2 separate regions of the Homo sapiens genome follow, and region 1 is linked to region 2. The links come from fine-mapping of genetic effects on gene expression. A gene starts in region 2. The other region holds a variant in brackets. All regions are shown on one strand. Distances are from middle to middle.

The links. PIP is the estimated chance that this variant, and not a neighbour inherited with it, causes the effect.
Region 1: its variant is fine-mapped to the expression of CDK16 in tibial nerve (GTEx, PIP above 0.99).

What each region holds. Positions count from the first base shown.
Region 1 is chrX:47,324,815-47,327,724 of GRCh38, reverse strand. No RefSeq gene overlaps it. Among named protein-coding and RNA genes, the nearest start is that of ZNF157, 44 kb to the left of the region's middle. The variant A/G (reference allele first, on the strand shown) is at 1,368.
Region 2 is chrX:47,217,245-47,220,154 of GRCh38, reverse strand. It overlaps CDK16 (cyclin dependent kinase 16), which reads right to left and starts at 1,474. Exons shown (of 16, transcript NM_006201.5): 1 at 1,050-1,474. LOC105373194 (a long non-coding RNA gene) reads left to right here and starts at 1,505. Exons shown (of 3, transcript XR_949047.4): 1 at 1,505-1,652. RefSeq lists silencers at 961-1,030, 1,041-1,150, 1,171-1,330, 2,031-2,140 and enhancers at 748-1,387, 1,531-1,600, 1,721-1,840.

The sequences.
Region 1 (2,910 bases), 110 kb before region 2:
AGGGCTTGAGGGTTCCAGCAAACATCTCTGCCATCTGTCTGCCTGCTTTTTCTGTCACTTCTGAAATTCTGGTATCATGCCCGTGGTCAAAGCAACTAACTTCTGTGGCTACTAGAACTTTCTTCCTGCTTTTCTCACTCTGCACTTCCTGCTGCTGTCAATGAAACTCAGCTTCTTATTCCCAGGCACTCTCAGAGTGAGGATCCATAGGAGGCTTTGATTCTCAGGACAGATAACCCCATCTTTCCTCTGGTTCTGACCTATTTTTCTGTGTCCTTGTTACTGTGGTCATACCCAGAGAAGTAACATTTTGTCTTGAATTTGTAAAAATCTCTACCTTTCCCCACAAAGGGATTTCAGCACAGTGGCTATTTTAACAGATACCATGCAGCACGTACCACACGTTCCCTTCCTGAGTCCTTGAAAGTAATTTTCAGCTTTTGATCGGCTATATTGTTCTTCCCAGCTACATTTTGGGAAGTCCAGCAGAATAACTTGCTACTCTTTTAAAGGTCCTAATGATAAAACGAAACAAAACATCCCCTTTTTATCATCACCCACAAAGCCCTAATGCGTGCAACAAAGATTGTGAAACGTCCAGGGAACAGTTTGTGAGACAGAAAGGATGGCTTTGTTGATTAGCAAAAAGCTGGAACGTGGACACTGGCAACACAACAGGATTGGGACCCGCCTTCTTCAAGTGAAACAAAGTTGGAATTATTTTCAATTTTAATGTTAAACGGTTTTTTTGTTTGTTTCCAAATTATTTGAAAAGTTACTAATCCAAGCGTGGTATGAGTGGTATCATTTTGGTAACTAGATTAATGCACTACCAGATCCTAGAATTTCCCACTTTACCAAATAAAAGTATGTTCTGTGGAATTCTCCTAGACCAAGACAGGCTTTTCCCCTGAGCAATAGTGATAAAGTTGTCTAAATACATGAACTGGTGGCATTTTTCAAAAAGTAATAATGTTATAATCAAGAGGTGGTGTTGCTATGTTGCCCAGGCTGGTCTTGAACTCCCAGTCTCAAGTGATCTGCCAGGAGGCTGAGATGGGAGGATCATCTGAGTCTGGGAGGCCAAGGCTACAGAGAGCTGAGATTGCATTGCTGCACTCAAGCCTGGGTGACAGAGTGAAACCTTGTCTCAAAAACAAAACAAAACAAAACAAAACAAAACACTGCCACCATGCCTGCCTAATATTTTTATTTTTATTTTTGTAGAGATTGAAGGGGGTCTCACTATGCTGTCCAGGCTGATCTCAAACTCCTGAACTCAAGTGATTCTCCTGCCTTAGCCTCCTAAAATGCTGGGATTACAGGCGTCTTTAAGTGCTGGGGGTCGGCATATTTAAAATGAACAC[A/G]CTGCCTATAATCCCAGCACTTTGGGAGGCCAAGGCAGGTGGATCTCCTGAGGTCAGGAGTTCGAGACCAACCTGGCCAACATGGCGAAACCCTCTCTCTACTAAAAATACAAAAATTAGCCGGGCATGGTGGTGGGTGCCTATAGTCCCAGCTGTTTGGGAGGCTGAGGCAAGAGAATCGCTTGAGCCCAGGAGGCAGAGGTTGCATTGAGCCATATCGTGCCACTGCACTCCAACCTGGATGACAAAAGGGAGGCTCCGTCTGAAAAAACAAATAATTAATTAATAAAAATAAAATGAACACACTGTTTTAGTTTAACAGACTAAAGAGGTGCAACCGTATGGAATAAATGAGCCTGGACTTAGTCTTGTGTTTTAAAAAAGTTATAAAAGATGTATGGGAGCCGGGCGCAGTGGCTCATGCCTGTAATCCCAGCACTTTGGGAGACCGAGGGGGGCGGATCACAAGGTCAGGAGTTCAAGACCAGCCTGGTCAACATAGTGAAACCCTGTCTCTACTAAACATACAAAAATTTGCCAGGCATGGTGGCACATGTCTGTAGTCCCAGCTACTCGGGAGGCTGAGGCAGGAGAACCGCTTGAACCCGAGAGGTGAAGGTTGCAGTCAGCCGAGATCTCGCCACTGCACTCCAGCTTGGGCAACAAAGTGAGACTTCGTCTCAAAAAAAAAAAAAAAAAAAAAAAAAAGATGTATAGGACAACTGGGGAAAATTAAATATGGACTGGATATTAAGCAATATTAGGGAAGTATTTAGAATATTAGGGAATTATTTAGAATTATTTAGAATTGAAAGGTATTACTGTGTGCAGCTAACTTTCAAATGGTTTGGGGCTGGACGCGGTGTCTCACGCTTGTGATTCCAGCACTTTGGAAGGCCAAGGCAGGCAGATCACCTGAGGTCAGGACTCTGAGACCAGCCTGGCCATCATGGCATAACGCCATCCCTATTAAAAATACAAAAAATTAGCTGGGCATGGCGGCGGACGCCTGTAATCCCGGCTACTTGGGAGGCTAAGGCAGGAGAATCACTTGAACCTGGGAGGCAGAGGTTACAGTGAGCCGAAATCGCACTATTGCACTCCAGCCTGGGTGACAGAGCGAGACTCTATCTCAAAAAAAAAAAAAAACAAGAAAGAAAGAAAAATAAAAATAAAAAGGCCAAGTGCAATGGTTCACGCCTGTAATCCCAGCACTTTGGGAGGCTGAGTCAGGTGGATCACTGGAGGTCAGGAGTTCGAGACCAGCCTGACCAACATGGCGAATCTCCATCTCTACTAAAAACACAAAATTAGCCGGGTGTGGTGGCATGCACCCATAATCCCAGCTACTTGGGAGGCTAAGGCAGGAGAATCACTTGAACCTGGGAGGCAGAGGTTGCATGCAGTGAGCTGAGATTATGCCACTGCATTCCAGCCTGGGTGACAGAGCAAGACTCCATATTAAAAAAAAAAAAAAAAAAAGAAAGAAAAAGAAAAAGAAAAAAAGAAAAAATTATTAATGACTTGAAATCCTACCACTGTA
Region 2 (2,910 bases):
CTCTATGTCTCTAAACCCACATTAGCAACCACCAGTACTTCTATTACCCTGCTCCTTCCTAGTGTGCCCTCGAGACTCACATTCCCTGTGTCCATGGACACACTCACACCTCACATCACCTTTACCCTTCGTCCACTAAGCCTCTGACAGTGCTAAGACACTTCCCCACCACTCCTTCCTGGGCCCAGACAGACACGCAATTCTCATCTCCTTTAGGCCAGGCTCAGGTATTCCACAGTCCTTCCTCCGTTAGATACCCTCAGGTCCTTCCTCCACTCTGCCCTCATTAGCATATACTGGGTCCCAAACTACCTAGACCTTCGAGGCCACAGGCATACACCCTCTACAGCCATGACCCCCACTGGCGCACACACCACACTCGAGTCCTTCAGCTACCTGCCCTCCACAAGCACACACTGCATTCTCACACACTGCAGGCCCCACGGACAGACACGCAGTATTAACACCATCCAGGGCCTCATCGCCACGCACCAGGCCTCAGAGCCCTGACCCCACCAACACACGTTCTGGTACCTGTGCCACCCTGTCCCCCATGAACACACACCGGGCCTCTCTGCGGACATAATCCCTATGAGCATGTCTTAGAACTTCCTCGACACCCTACCCCCCGTTATACACCCTCGGGTCCCTCACCCGCTCCGCACCCCGCCCTCCTTCCACAAGCACACACGGGGCCTTGAACCTTACACGACTTATTGGCGTGAGGCTTACTGCCACATGCTCCGACCCCCATCAGCAACCCCCCCAAGTCTTTCACCCCATTGTCACCCATTTCCACACCCTTTGGTCCTTTGACTCCCCCAGGTCCCCATTAGCACCCACAGCACTACCCAACCCCAGCTCCCAGGACAGGCCCAGGGCGGGGCCAAGGTCAGGGAGGCCCCAAATGACCCCCCGCCCCGGTGCATTCTGGGAAATTCGCCGGGGGTGGGGGCACCTGCCAGCCCCGCAGCCCAGACCCCTGGGCACCGCCCGAGGTGGGTTCTGAAGGAGGAGGGGCAGCCTCCACGCCTCGGGGACGCGCTCACCGGCGGGGGCGCGCGAGCAACCTCAGAGCCGCGGGGCCGGCGCGGCGGCGCCTGGGGCGGCGGCCCGGGATGAGGCCGCGCGACCTCCTTCTCCTCCTGTTCGCCGCAGGCGCCCGTCCCAGTAGTCTTCAGCCATGGTTGCTGGGCCCGGGCCGCCGCCGGCTGAGGAGGAGGAGGCGGCGGCGGCGGCGGTGGCTGAGGCGGAGGCGGCGTCCCGCTCAGCCGGCCATGAGCTTGGCCGCTGCGGGCGATGCCCCCGGACTCGTTGGCGCCGGCTTGAATCCGAGTGCTCACGGCGGCTCGCGGCACAGAGCGGTCTGATCGCGGAGTGGCGGCGGATCCCAGGGCCGAACAGCCAACGGCCCAACCGCCGCGCGCGCCGCGCTCCGCGCATGCGCACGCAGGCGCTCGGAAGGGTGAAGTGGAAAGGAGGGGACTCACCTCGGACTGCATGTACCAAAGGACCCGTCCGCAGCGGGAGGGGACGCGGCCATCGCGAGCCCAGAGGAGGATGCGGCGCCAAGCCGGAGACGGCACCAGGGAGAACTGTGGAGGCTGTTTAGTACTCAGTTCCGATCTTGGCAGAAGTTTGCTAGCGCCTAGGTGAGCAGTGGCCAGTAACCTGGCGCGTCAATCACCACTCGTTCCCCCTACTCGGTCTCACTTGGTACATCCCCATGGTGGCAAACGGGACTTTTGCAAGGAGGAAAAAAGACAAATGAAGCACTCAGTTCTAGTCCCTTGAGGTGCTTGGGGAGGAAGGCATTTTAAAGGTTCGCGAGAAGATGACTTTTCGAGGAGAGGCAGCCTGAAGAGTTATTGGCCTTTACCACCTTAGCTAGGACGGCCTATCCCCGCCCAACTGCCCCCTCCACCGCTACCTCATTCCCGTAGTGAACGTGTGCAGCCCCGCCCTTTGAGGTTGTCGCCCAGCCAATCTGATTTGCTCTCTGTGGCGAGGCCGAGCAAGAATAAAGGGCGTGGCTGACTGAAGAGGCGTGATTTCGCTCTCTACCCGACTCCGCACGCCTCCGCCCAGGTTTCATAGGTTTTCACCGTCGGCGGGGGTGGGGTCTCCTTTTTGTTCTGAGCTCCTCCTTCGCTATAGGCCGAATATTCCGCAAGGTGATTGGTCATAATTGCGCTCAATCGAGTCTCGTCCCGCCTTTAGCCCGCCCTCCATCTCATACAGCGGGCCTCCCGGGGTGGAACCCAGGCTGAGAAAGAAGGAAAGAGGCGGATCCTTAGAGGCGCAGGAGCCGCTACTGCGCATGCTTGGAACTTCGAGCGGGGCGGAGCCTCTTTTCTGCCTCACACGAGTATTTGCATAGGCGCCGTGCGTTGGATTTTCCTGCCACCTCTCTTGCCCGGCACAGCCCCTCCCGTGCCTCCCCTCACTCTGAGGGTTTTTTGTTTTGTTTTGATGTCAGTCAACACAAGTAGAACACTCCGCGGTTTTATTTCCATTTTATTTATTGGGCGCATGTTGTGTGCCAAGTACTACCAGGCCGACCTAATCCTTCACTTCCTTCTGCCTGGAAAACCACACTATCCCCAAGTCCAGCTCAAAGGGCTGCAACCTCCAGCAGGCCTTCTGGCACATCCTTACACTACCCTGTTCCAAGGCAGCCTCCCCGCCTCTTCCGGGCTTCCCTTTATGGCAGCCTTGATCACAGCAGTTAGGATTTTCAGTAAGGTTTACATTAGTGAGATTTCCCGGGCCATGATGGGAGTGGAAATATTTGACAAAGATAAAAGTCCTCGCCTTGGCATAGAACAGGCTCATCACTTCTCTGACCTCATCTCTTCCTCTTCTTCCCCTGACTCACTGCCACCATACTAGCGCTCTTTCTAGCTGTTT